Regions from separate parts of the Homo sapiens genome. Here region 1 is reported to be linked to region 2. The links are microRNA targets in miRTarBase. Many come from high-throughput screens and were not tested one by one. Region 2 holds a microRNA gene; the other region holds the end of a gene's coding sequence.
What was found. The annotated mature microRNA hsa-miR-4795-3p reads AUAUUAUUAGCCACUUCUGGAU and lies in region 2 at 2,403-2,424, opposite strand. An mRNA with a match to its seed (bases 2 to 7 or 8) in the 3' UTR can be bound and repressed. Matches are read on the target gene's strand: a 7mer-m8 pairs with bases 2 to 8, a 7mer-A1 pairs with bases 2 to 7 and ends in A, and an 8mer does both.

Region 1 (7,125 bases), not on the chromosome of region 2:
TACTTTTAAACCATTTAAAATGTTTAGCCACGTGACTAATGCTTACAGTATTGGACAGCGTAGATCTAAACCAACACTTATGAAGCAAGCCAATCATCACAGAAAAGTACCAAACAAAATTTTAAGTGGCATCCAAGATTATTCATGAATCTCTTAATTATTACTTCCAAATAGTGACATATCTGTTAAGTCATCTTATGCTACTTAAAATTATAATTTAGAAAAGGCATCTTTGTGAGTGAAACTGGCCTTTAGCTTCTGTTTAAAGAAAAACATAAAGCTGTGCTGCCAAAGATGAAAAACTCATGTGAAATTAATAAAATACAATCTCAATTTTTCAGAAAGCAAAGATGATTTGTTCTTTCAACAGGCACATAAAATATATTATCTACCAAACTTATATAAAAAATGATCCCAGTTATGAGGCAAAAGAATCTATGTGCACAAGAGACTGAAAGGAAGCATGCCAAAATGTTTACTGTGGATATTCTATGGCTTATAGAGTTATAAGGGTGATTTTTCTTTTCTTCTTGATTCCTTTCAGGATATTCCAAGTTTTCTATAAAGAATATGCTTTACTTTTACAACTAGGGAAAGAAAGACAGAAAAATATATATAACATTTAAAGGGCAAAACAATATAGCTGTTTATTTTACAGGCTAAAATATCAAGATGAAAAGCTCTGATCCCAAATCATCCATTTTACCTATATTCTGTCACTTTTACTAAAAGCAGAGTTCTACTCATCCCAGTGAAAAAAACAATGAATTAAAAGTAATTTCTGGCGTTAACCCAAGTACCGAGTTAAGACTCCTTAAGAATATAGAATTATGTAATCAACTTAGATAATTCAAAGCCCAATGATATAACTAAGTTCTTTGACGATTGAGCACACATTGTTTCCTTACTTATCTTTAAACATTCCTAGTCCAATTACTCCCTAGCATAATACCATTTATAAATGAGGATGAGTTTACAATGGTTTCTGTAACCAAAAAGTATTTCTAATATCTGTCCTCTGCCACATATTTTTAAATTATCTTTTCCATTAGCAGAAATGGGCAACATAAGCAATAAATCATGTTAAGTCTGTTGCTACAAATTTACTTTGCCAAAATTTTTGTTCAGAGGGCAGATATCTGCATTATTTAAGGACATTTAGTCATTTGTAGCTAACACCTGAAGTAAACTACCCTCAATCAATTTTTATATTTCAGTCTAGTCACTGTAGACAAACTATTTAAATCTTTTATAATTTACTTTGTGTAGTTATTTGGCTTAAAAAAAAAAAAAGAGGGCTCACATTCTATTTAAATTAAGACAATATATTTTATAAAGCCCAAATTATAGTACACTAAGAGCCAGAGGGGTCTAGGGAATTGATCTCAGTGGGTATACAGCAAAGACAAAATTTGGAGGCAGACGCTAAAGGAAGTTGAGATAAATAAAATTCAAATCAGTGTATTAACAGAACTACACAAATGTTTACAACACAGTAACTACACTTTTCAATTAGTTCATTGTGAAAACTGAGCAAAATATTTTCAACAATTTTGGGTCAACAAAAAGTATGGAATATTTTAAGACAATAAAGAGTGACTGGTGTTGAGAGTACTGAGGCTACACAGAGGTACTGAAATTCAAATCTGAAAAATACTGTGCTGGCCACACAACACTACAAATTTCTAATGGAAGAATTCCCTTTTTGATCCGCAGCTTAGGTGGTAAGTAAATAAAAAAACAGCTCAGAAAAACAGCAAAAATATTAACATTTAGGAGTCTCAAAACTTTGTATTGGCTGTGAGTCTGGGGGAAAAAAACATAAATGTCATACTACCAATTAAACTTTCAAGAGTCATCAGATTATTTAGCTTTAAAATTTTACTAAATCAGACCTTAAACTACACATTCAAAATGCTGAACTAGATAATCACATATTAAAAAGGTAATGACTCATTATCAGTGAATTACCCAGTCTGTTCTATCAAAGTAGTAGTTAAGGTCACCAAATAATGTTGGTGCCTTTGGTTCTGGAATTATAACTAGCTGTACTGTAGGAGCATCAGCGCCTAAGTTTTAAGCCAGTGGGAATACTCTGCTGCCTGGCTTCACAGGCACTGAATACACTTAAAATGGTAAGAAACTGAATGGATTTAATAAGTTTTGAATAATACAATAACCAACTGTATATTTATTATGAAGTAAAAGCCAATCTCCTACCCAATCCCTCTTCTATCAGCTGCACATTTCCAAGTAAGTGAGATAAAATGACTCAATCTAAACCACGTGAAGGAATGTATTAACATAATCCAACAAAAATGAAATAAAACAATCCAGAGTTTTGAGTGTTTTTTCACACTTGTAATAAACTGAAAAAATATTTCAATTAAAACAACCATATGCCACAAAAAGCCACTCCCATCATCCACAATACTAAAGTCCTTATACAACACTAGATAAATTTTTATATAAAACAGTAGAAACTAGCATACCATTAATTAGAAACCTCAAAATATTCAGAAAACAGTATCAAGTACTCAAGAGAAAGCTCAAGAAGCCAAAACCTCAAGAATCCATACATCCTGGTTGTTACCCTAAATTGTAATTAACTACCCACACATTTAATCATAATCAACTTTTTCAAAGATATACAAATCAATGCATCTATTTAAAAGGACTACTCTTTATAGTTCAGAACTTTACATTAACTTTTATATTCTACTCAGCAGGGTGTCTGTCTGTACTCCAAATTAGCTCTCATGTTCCAGGAAATAAATACAAACTCATATGCCTTGTGATCACTGATGGCCTGCTTATGTAATTCTAGTCCACTAAATGTTAATTCCATAGAATATGCTCTTGATTATGTAAAAACTCTAATTTCTTGATGAAATACTGTAATTCTCCAAAGGTTACAATTTTGTAAAGATATGCAATAACTGAGTATCACTCCCATGAAAGACAAAAAAAGTATAATTTTGTTCCAAGATTAACTTAGTCTCATGTATCTCTATTAAGTCTTTCAAGGATTCCAGAGAATCTTTTCATATCTCCATTTCTGGAAAGTGAAATCAGTATAGAAGTAATTTGGGAACTTGAAAATGGCATTCATTTTTTTCAGCAGATGCCAAATTTTTGACCGACATGGTTCTCACAATTACTTTGTTACCAACAGTCCAGTCAGTTAACAGGTTGTAGGAAAAGATTCGTTTTTGCAGACACTGCTAAGCTGTTCAAAGAGAAGAGAGAGAGATTAATTTAGTGATTATAAAATGCACAAATATTTAAAATATTTTGAACACTTCTTGTTGGATTATATCAGAGGTGTGACTACATTTTAACAAAAGTGGACTTTTTAAGATAAGTCTGGTCAAAGAAGTGCAGAAACAGTAAGTCAATATGATAGAAATAGTAGGTCAAAATATGATGTGTTAGTTCAATTAATGTATGAACTCCTGCCACCATCAAAAGACAAATATTAAAAAGCTACATCTTTAGTCTAGTTCTGTATTTTACCAGAGGCACATTTAGAAGAAAAACAAAAGGGTCACCCAAATACTAAATTGTTTTCAACCATTACAGTAAATAGAGCCAAACCTAGAAATTTCAAAAACAATCCATTTTATATTCCAGAAATCTCCTTTATCCATGTGCTAATCATCCAGAACACAATTTTCTAAAAATAGTAAGACAACAGTTTCACATTAATCATAACTTTTTTAATTAACAAGTAGTGAATCGGACACTTTAAGATATTGTTTACTACATACTGAAATAAACAGATCTGTTTAAATTCAGAAACCCAAACATTTACAGTAAAATGTGCTTACACATAAATATGACCAAATTTATTTAAAGCCCCTATTAGATAGATCCTAAGTACATGCAATTACCATGTAAAAACAAGACCATGAAGTTGATGTAAAAAATGACAAAATCACTAAGTCACCAAAACTAGAAAAAAAAAAATGAAATGGAAACTGAGAAAAGACAGTTAATAAAACATAAGGAACCTAACAAAGCAGCTTTAAAAATAGGCCATACTAATCCTTCCATTTTCAAAAGTTCTTATCAAGTAATTCCAAAAACTGCCATTTATAAAATGACATTCTAAAAATCTACACTTGGAATTTCAAAGTATCTCAATTCAGAAAGCTTTGACTACTGTTTCTCCCCAGCCCACAATTTCAAATAATGCAGGAAAAGTATTGACGTAAGGAAGAAAATACTCCAACAGAATGTTATAGTTTTTAGAAAAATGAACTTACTGCTTTCCAGAACCTTTTAAGACCCACAGTCAGCATTAACAATCATTTTTCCTATTTTCATCCATTATTTTCCAATATCATGTTAGAGATGAATAAATTCTTTGAGCCCATAACTAAAAGATCAACAAACCTGGTTTTATTATGACACCATATTTTTGTCATTGGTACTGCACAAAATTATATACAAAGAAATATATACAAAATGTTCAAGTATTAGTTAAATTTCAATTCAAGGCTTCTGTTTCAAAAAAGCTACATTTAACATATTTCATAAAGATAGCACAAATTAGTCATTTCAAATAATCTTTCCAACTACTTTTGGTTTATATATATATATATATATGTATATATATATATAATTCAGTAGGCACTAAAAACCCATGCAGCTGCATTGTGAGGGGCTTGCTCCTGCCCTTAGGTATAAGCAGGTTCATCACTCCAATTTGTGAGTTTGGCTACTACCCATTCATGCTCAAGTGCAGTAGTAGATGATTTTACAAAATATGCTGTGATGCACTGGAAACCAAAGACCAATTCAGGTCTCAAATCGTATTATCTAGCAACAAAACATTTACAGTTGTGCAAGAACAAGGATTCCATTTTCATAACCAAATAACAAAATAAAACATTTTATGTGTAAGATAACTTACATCTTTGGACTGCTGGAAAATACTTTTTAATTATGAACATGTTAAAAATAAAAAACAGCAGAAGCCCTGATATTACCTCTTTTTCCTCATTTCTTATACTACCTTTTAAAATAAAGCAGGAAATGTGGCCAGCAGCTGGTCCCGTCTCTTCTGCCCCAACAGCTGTATCCACTTTAGCACAAAGAAAAACAAGGATGCTAAATACGTATATACTTTATCAAGCAGTGATGTTTCACAAAGAATTTCTTAATGCCTCTTACACTGAAGGACACCATAATTCAATTTATACAACTGGTTAATAGATTCAAGGGAATAAATCCCACCTTAGGAAAATAGTACCAATCGTGTCATTTAAGTGGCCAGAACCACTCAATTTAAAAAATTATTTTAAAATAGGACAAATACTTTTGAAACACAGAGAATAAGATTCTTTGTGAAGCCTCACTTTACACGTTTTCATTCACATTTCACAACCTTCAATATCTAATCATACATATATAAATTTAACCTAAAATTTTAATACAACAAAAATAAAGATGTTCAACAATTTATTCAATCTCAGTGATAGGGTAATCACTGCTGGTCCTCAAAGAAACATTAGCCATTCTTATTCTCCAATTAACTAAAACGCAGGAGTCTCATATGTATGTTAATTTCCAACTTCTCTAATGGTGAGACATTAAAATGTTACTCCATTATAGACTGTTTCTATATCTCATACTGAAAACTAAAAGGCATTGTTGATATTTAAGAGATACCTGTCACCTCCAGCAAAATAACTATCACATTTGTGCATGCCCCAAATACTTAACTGTCAACCTCTGAAAAGTTGCCCTAAAATCGGAATTCCAATTTGCACCTTGTACAACTCGGAACTTCCATTCAACTTCACCTGTTTCACTGTCTCCAAACTGTCTCTCTATAAGCAGGTTTCAGTGTACAGTTGGAACCGATGTCATCCAAGGCCATGTCCACACTGGGGACAGAAGAGCTAGGTACACGCAAGTCTGAATAAGGGGACACATTAATAGCTATTTCAACCAGAAGAGGCATCTTAAATACATTCTTGACCAGCACAAGTCTGTTTCCAGGGTGGACAGGGCCCAAATTAGATTTCCCTCCCACCTTCCAAAACAGAAAAAAAAAAAAAAATCACACACACACAAACTGAGATGTTGCCCATTAAAGTAGACAAAGCAGCAGAGCATGAGCGTTACGGGAAGAGATGGATCCTTACCAGGTTGTGAGGCGGGAACGACTGTTCTGTAACCCCTACAACGGAGCCTGGCAGGAAGGAAATCACCTAAAAAAGAAACTGTCAGAGAGATTTAATAGTCACATGTTATCATTAGGAGTTGGTTACTGTGTCACATTCATGCTTTTAGCTAAACACTTTAAGATTCAATATTACTTTTTTTCTCTCCTCTGAAATGTGTCCGGTGAAGATGTCCCACTAAGGTAAGTTTGACATGGTGTAAGGGAGTTGAAAGGGGTAAACGCGGATAAAGAGCAGATTACTTGACCCTACATTTTAAGAGAAGACGACGCCTTCCGGGCGCACGCCGAGCAGAACTCCACCGACACCTTATCCTTGTCCACATGGAGACAGACTCCTCCCGCCGAGTCGTCCTCTTCCAGCAGGTCCTGCTTCTGCTTTCCCACCGGCAGAGCGTAGTCGTGGTCACCGGCGGGCGAGTCTCTGAAGAGCGAGGTGGTCAGCCGCAGTCCCACGCCGCTCAGCCGGCTCAGCAAGCGAGCCAGTCCAGTCTCGTTGGCTAAGACTGCCCGTAGGTAGCGACTCTCCTCCTGCAGTGCCTGTACGCGTTTGCCCAGCTCCCGATTCTCGGCCCGCAGCTCCTGGTTCTCGGCTGCCAGACCCCGGACTCGACTCTCCAGCCCCATCACGTACTCCTTCTTCTTCAGTCGATTAAGGCGGGCAGCGGCCGCCGCCGCCTTCCGGGGACTCTTTGTCGCCGCCTGGTTGTTGTCGTTACCGCTGCCGCCACCGCCGCCTCCTCCTGGGGACTTTCTCCGCCTCTTTTCGGCGCTGCCACTGTCACTGCTGCTGCTGCAGCCTCCGATACCGTTTAACAGCCTTTGCAGCAGGTCAGAGAAGCGCTGCATTTCAGCAGCCGCGGCCTCATCGTCATCGTCCCCTCTCCACAGGCCGCCGCTATCCGAGCCTCCGCCAGACGAGGAGAGAGGCC
Region 2 (7,105 bases):
ATATACTTGTCATTTGGCGTTAAAACATTGAAACATGGATAATATGAAAATACGATTGCATATTAAGTTTCTATTAAATATATTTACATTCTAGTAGGAAAATTATTGAAGGGCCTGACAAGAGATTCTCTCTGAACCCAAGGAGTTTAAAATTGAAGCTGAGGAGAAAAGACAAACAGAAACAAATCTGCACCGAATCCTTCCAGTACCAATGTTAGATACATATTTCTATAACAAGTCAATTCCTACACAAATAACAGATTTAAGAACAAGAAAACCATTATCTTATTATTTATTTGTTTATTTTACTTTAAGTTCTGGGATACATGTACAGAACGTGCACGTTGGTTACATAGGTCTTCATGTGCCATGGTGGTTTGCTGCACCCATCAACCCATCATCTAGGTTTTAAGCCCCACATGCATTAGGTATTTGTCCTAATGCTCTCCCTCCCCTTTCCCCCCACCCCCTGACAGGCCCTGGCATGTGATGTTCCCCTCCCTGTGTCCATGTGTTCTCACTGCTCAACCCCCACTTATGAGTGAGAATATGCAGTGTTTGGTTTTCTGTTCCTGTGTTAGTTTGCTGAGAATAAAACCATTTTTTTATTAAGGAGAAAGAAATGGGCTAATTTGGGGAGGTGGTGGCTGTTAAGGTGAAGGTAACCAAGATCAGCATCAGAAAGCCTAAATCTTCAATTTGTGTTTTCTGTACTACAGAGAAGAGAATTTCAGCATGAAGATTACTTGAGAAAGCATAAAAAGGTAAAACAGCTGGAAACAACAATACAGATAATACAAAAATGATTATTATGTGATATGGTGTGAATGTACCCCCCAAAAATTCATATGTTGAAACTTAATCACTAATGTGATAGTTTTTAGAGGTGGGAACTTTAGGATGTGATTAAGTCATGAGGGTGGAGCCCTCATGAATGAGATTAGTTCCTTTATAAAACAGGTGTGAGGGAGCTGCCTACCGCCCTTTTACCCTTCTGTCCTTCTTGCCATGTGAGGATACAGCATCTCTTTCTTCTTGAGGATGCAACAGCAAGGTACCATCATGGAAGCAGAAAGCAGCTCTCACCAGAAACAAAACCTCTGGGTTCCTTGATCTTGGACTCCCCAGCCTCCACAAATGTGAGAAATAAATTTCTACTGTTTATAAATTACCCAGTCTGTGGTATTTTGTTGTAGCTGCACAGAGGGGCTAAGACATTACGTGCCAAGCACTACTTTGAATGTTTAACATATTAACTCATTTAATCCTTGCAACAGCTATTAGGTTGGTGCAAAAGTAACTGTGGTTTTCGCCAATTACTTTTGTACCAACCTAATATATGAAAGGTGGGCTAATGTTATCTCTATCACATATGTGATGAAAGAAACACGGAGAGCTTCAGTGAACTGGCCTAGGTCTTAAAACTTAAAAGTCACAGAATTGGTCACAGAACTGGGCAGTCTGTGTCCAGAATCAGCACTCTCCAATGTTATGCTATCTTTCTTCAAAAGCTGAACAAGGAGAAGAATGCACCCATTCAAATTATAACCCGAGGTACCCAAAGATGAAAAAATGGCAAATATTTCAGTTTCAGAGGAGGAAACTATGTTATGAAATACTCCAGAAAACAACATATATTTAAGTGTATCATGCCCTTTAAATAAGGAGCGATATAATAATACAAAATGTGTACAGGAGAAATGTGGCCACCAACTAATCAGAATGGACTCTAGCTAGACTGGTGCAATCAGCTGAATATCAGCCTTCTTCAAACTATGGGAGAACAAGCTATTAGAGTACTGAGTTTAAATAGTAAATATTTCTATTTTGTCTTTATTGTAATGAACAAGCCCTGTCTTTAGCTCCTGCTGTGCACTTTTGGAGGGTCTTCCATATGGTTGCTCCTAAGTATTTTGGCATTTTCCCAACTGTTACAATTGGGTCAGTGGGGGGGATTGTATAGGAGTAATAAAACAAGGGTGACTGCAGCAGGGAGGAGTACGATTACTACACACATAACAGCTTATTGCCTCTCATGCGTTCAAGCACAGCTCTATGCCATTCATTACAACAGACAGCCAGGGCAAACTGCCATAGAGCTCACTCCAGAAAAGGCCCGGTCTTGAGTGCAGAGACTAAATCTTCTCACTTACATGTCTTCCTAATGTTTCCTTACTTCATCTTCCCATATCGAGAATAACTTGAGGAGAAGCAAAACAATTATATCTTGCATATTACTACGTCATTCTTAAGAAAGTTTTCTTGAACAGACTCTCAGCTAACTTTTAGCAGCAGCAGCAGCATTATCAGTGGCTATGAGGGCTTGGATATCTCAGGAGGGGAAAAATGGGAAAGGCTGGCCTGATTATCATAAATAATAATCCTTGAGACATGATTCATAAATCCAGAAGTGGCTAATAATATTGACATTATTGTTATAGTGTCAATATTATTAGCCACTTCTGGATTTCTTCCATATCAGAGATAATATTTATGAAAAAAAAAATGCTACCATTATTTTTATCCTGTGGAAGGCAGTGTTGCTTTAAACAGTAGAGACTATATACAGGTACGCACGCATAGGTTGTATTTTCCATTTTATACATGCAAGGATTCTTTAAATAATTCATTACATTTTTTCTTTAACATGATATGCAGTTTTTCACAAAAAGCCCAAATAAACGGCTGTGAGGAATTCTAATAGGATCACCGTATAGCCATGACACTTTATGATTCATGATTTACAAGAAATTAAGAAATAGAGCTGGAGACATTTAGACCAGCCTACAAATTTGTGTGTGTGTGTGTGTGTGTGTGTGTGTGTGTGTGTTTTAATGTTTCCAGGCAAGAACCTTAAACAAAAAGTGTAGCATTAAAAAACTTCCCTTCGTCCTCGAGACCCCCCCAACTCTAGACACTGGATCCCCGGAGACCCACGCTGGGTCGTCGGAGTCTGGAGCCGGGGGCGGCAGGTGAGCGGCTAGGGTCCTGCAGGGGTCTGCGCGGTGCGGGGGAGGTCGCCGAGTCAGTCAGTGCCGAAAGGACCGCGAACTCCAGGGGCCAACAATCACCGGGTACGGAACTCAACGTTTCCGCCAGTTCCTGGATTACTCGAGTAAAAACAAACAAACAACAACAACAACAACAACAAAAATACTAACAGCAATGGGACCGTAATAAATCAACTCGGAGTGGGTACAGGCGGTTCCGGGACAACCCACACTTAGTCTAGGAGCCCGGAGATCCCTCATCCAGCTTTCCCCGGGGCAAGGGGTGAAGCGCTAAGCAAGGCTGATCACTGTCCTCAATCATCACCCAACCCGCGCACAGAAGCCGTGGCCCCACGCTCTCCTATCCCCGCCAGCTCCAGACTCGCCCCGCTGCCAACTCCCGGTGCAGGAGGAACTGGCAGCCGCAGACGTGAGGAAAGCGGCCGCGGCTTCAAACTCCGTAGTGCGCAGGCGCCACACAACGCGCAGGCGCCGCCTAGAAGTGACTTCTCCAAAAAGTGTGTTAGTTCCCGGTCACCTGAGCTCCGGGTGACGCGGCTGCGGTAGCTGCGGATACAAGCCTTCCGCGGGTCCTGCCTGGCGACCCCGACCTCCTCCTGCTGTCTCTCCGCTCCGCCACCCCGAACCCGCCAAGGTCCTGTCCTTTTCCTCCTGTCCTTTGCCAGCGTTGGGCCGGACCGGGCCGAGCCGGGCCGCCCGGGCGCAGTCTTTAACCATGGCGTCCCTCTTCAAGAAGAAAACCGTGGATGGTGAGTTCCAGGCCGGGCTGAAGGGGCCCAGCTCTGCGTTTTCTCGGCGTCTTTCGAGGCCTGCTGGCCGCGATTCTGCCTACTGTCCCTGGAGGCGGGGCTGGATCAAGTGGTCCCACAGGTGACCGCCCTCGCGGCACCACTTCTCTGCCTCCCTCTTGCTTCTGACTCACCTCACCTTAGGCTCACCTAGGCAGTCTGGTTGCTTCCCTATCCTCACGATTCCCCCACCCTCGGGTTTTCCTCAGCAGGATCCTGAGCGTTTCGAGGAGGCTAGCTGGCCCTTGAGTGTCAATAAACTTGGAAATCTGATGGATTTCTTGTTGGTTTCCTCTGCTTCGATTGTTGCTCTTCAGTTGGGCGATATACTACTTGTAGGCATCCATACAGGAAACTGGCAGTCTCGGAATGGGGAGGGAGGGGATAACAGGCTCCAGTTAGGAAATGAAGTTGGGTCTGGGTCAGTTGCTTCTTTAAGAACACCCCATCAGTAAAGAGATGTGAAACAAATGCTTTTTTGATTAACCCCAGTAGAAAAATAAACCCAAGGGAAGTGCCCAGATTTAGTTTTCATAATGGATTTTTCTCCCTTATGATTATTTTTTGCCAACTAAAGAAAGAGATGGGGTATATATTGTCTTCATAGAAGTTTAACATGTAAAGATAATTGTGTTGTTTCCCGCATTTAGCTTAATATCATCTTAAGCGGGGAAAAAAGTGAATGTAAAGGAATGTACAAGTTTTATGGTGCTCATATGCGATGCCTATAATGTGTTTATATAACACTTGATGTTTTCATTGATTGCTACCAGGAATTAAATTCATTCAAGTTATTTAAAAATTGTGTTCCCCATTATATGTTTAGTCTAGGTTGTTGCTGGTTCAACCAAAGAATCACTTCTTTGTAAGGGTCTAATTCTGCCACAAAAGGAGCAGTGGTAGCTAGACAGTGATTGGTACAAATAGGGTGCTCAGTCCAGACCTGGACGTAACTCCTTCATTCCTTTGTGTTGACTATTCCAATGCCAGCAAAATTATTTTGGGGAGGATAACAAAGAAGTCATCTCTGCTCTGCTGCTGTACACTTCATTTCAACACATAATCTACTTTACCTCTAATTTATCAGATGACATAATACATTTTTCCTTACTCTGGGTGACTGAACATTTTTTTGATTTATTGACTTTTTATTAAGTACCATTTGCAATACCTGGAATAACTACCAACTTCGTATATTAGGTGATACAGTGATGTGAAATGGATTTTATGTGTGCTTTTCATGAGAATGCTGCTTAATCTTTAATATGGCACTTTATTTTTTCAGTGTTTTAGCTGCCACTGTTGTGAGCTTCACTTATTTTACAGTACTCCAGGGAGTGGGGGTGGGGGAACGATTTATTTTCTTTTTGCTTGAGTTTTATATAGTTACAGTTTTTTTTTGTTGTTTAGTTTTATATAGTGAGAATTTACTAAATGGAGAAAAAATGGTTTCATCTCCTTTACTGTGATGTTACAATTAGAGTTAATTTTTTTTTAACAATAAAAGCCAAGCATACTAGTTTTAATCGCCTAATACCTGTCAAATATTTTCAAAGACATAAATCTCAGTTCTGTGCTTCCTGGTGCTTTTGGAAATTTAGTGACTATTGTACTTGAAGTGTAGAGGAGAGAAAAAAAGACAATGGGGATGTGCAATGAGTGTTTAACTGTATACTCATTTGCAGTTAATTCTTCCAAGAAATAATGTTTTTGCTGAATAGACTTATTTGTAAAAGAGTCTTAAGGACTCTTGCTAGGAACTATGCCACTAAATTAACCATATGTGCAATTTCCAAATGTAAATTTGGCCAGCAGGTACATTTACTATAAACTACCAAGATGCATACTTGATGTTTTCTTATATTATTGTGTCAATTCCAGTCATTTACTGACATCTTAATAAATAGATCTGTATTTTCGTTATTTTGATATAGAGCTTTACTTTTTTTATTCCCTGTTTTATTGAAAGGAAGTTTTTTTTTGTTTTGTCTAAAAGGTGACAGCATTCTTCTTGGTAATGAGGCTGTATATTATGAATATGAAGTTTAATGTATTTTTATGTCTCTCAGATCGTTGGATTGATCATGAGCTCTTTTATTGTATGCTGACTTTTAAATCTGTTCCAGCAGTAATGAAATTCTGATATATAAGGGAAACATGTACCTGCCTATAGATCTGGGGAATAATTGAATCTTTTTTCCTGTTTGGATTGGCTGGAAGAGTTATATACTGTATCATTAAAGACTACTGCACATGTAAATTTAAAAGGAAGACAACATTACAGCACTTATTACTATTCAGAGTTATGTTTAATTCATTTTGACACAAAGATGAACAAGTCTCTGCGGTGTATACTTTGCTGTAGAAATTAATGAGAGGTATACCTCAAGAGAAGGGAAGGATTCTTTGGAATTTGAAATTACAGTTGAGTACTACTTGGTTTTTCTTTTACCTGTGTAAGGATATACATATATATAGTGTGTTATGTTTACCTACAGTGTTTATTTTCCCCCTTTGTAGATTAATAGTGACCTATTTAGGGAAGCTAATTATGAACCTGTAAATCAGGATCCCACTAGGACTTGTCACAAATGCACAACTAAACATGCTTAAAAGTGAAGTTCTTTAAACACTATATAATTTTTGTCTGTTAACCTCAGTAAAGACAAATTTGACTAAGCCAACACTGTGCTAAGCATTGTGCATGCCATGTCTTATTTCTCATAAAACATATAAGTACTCATATAACATCCTTATAAAATGAGAAAAGCAAAGGACTAAGTCGTGTGTTCAAGATCATACAGCTATTAAGTGTCAGAACTAGGACCTCATCCCTTTGAGTATTATTATTACTTTTTTCTTATTAGAGATTGATACATGACACAGTTTAATTTTGCTCTTATCAAGCACATGGAATTCTCAACTTTTGGTAGATACCATGCAACGTTTACATTCTTTCTGGAACCAGACTTTTCTTTCGGAATTAGTGGTAGAACTTTACTTTCTAATGGTGGTGGAACTGGAAATAACCCACTCCTGACTCTCCCTGGACACAGCATTTCTTCGAAAGTATGGCCAGTTTCTTTTTGCTTTTCATCTAAACCTTTTGAAGGAGTAGTGATGTCTTATCTCCACTTCTTTACTTAACAGACTGCCTCCCCCACCTTACAGCAGTTTGCCTTGCATGGCATGCAATGAGATGTTGCTTAGATCATCAGTAACTTCTAGATTGTCAAATCTAATGGCCATTATTAGTGAACATCTCTTGGGCCTATGTTTTGCATTTGATCCTGATAATTAATTTAT

Region 1: miRTarBase lists CREBZF as a target of hsa-miR-4795-3p. Seed matches in the 3' UTR shown: 7mer-A1 at 4,405-4,411 and 7mer-A1 at 2,192-2,198.

The regions. Positions count from the first base shown.
Region 1 is chr11:85,657,369-85,664,493 of GRCh38, forward strand. It overlaps CREBZF (CREB/ATF bZIP transcription factor), which reads right to left. Exons shown (of 1, transcript NM_001039618.4): 1 at 622-7,125. The coding sequence ends at 6,443. Among named protein-coding and RNA genes, the nearest start is that of CREBZF, 4.2 kb to the right of the region's middle. RefSeq lists enhancers at 6,385-6,624, 6,735-7,024.
Region 2 is chr3:87,223,797-87,230,901 of GRCh38, forward strand. MIR4795 (microRNA 4795) reads right to left here and starts at 2,481; the gene lies at 2,393-2,481. It overlaps CHMP2B (charged multivesicular body protein 2B), which reads left to right and starts at 3,513. Exons shown (of 6, transcript NM_014043.4): 1 at 3,513-3,760. The coding sequence starts at 3,727. RefSeq lists enhancers at 2,965-3,104, 3,215-3,274, 3,365-3,414, 3,465-3,534, 3,605-3,724.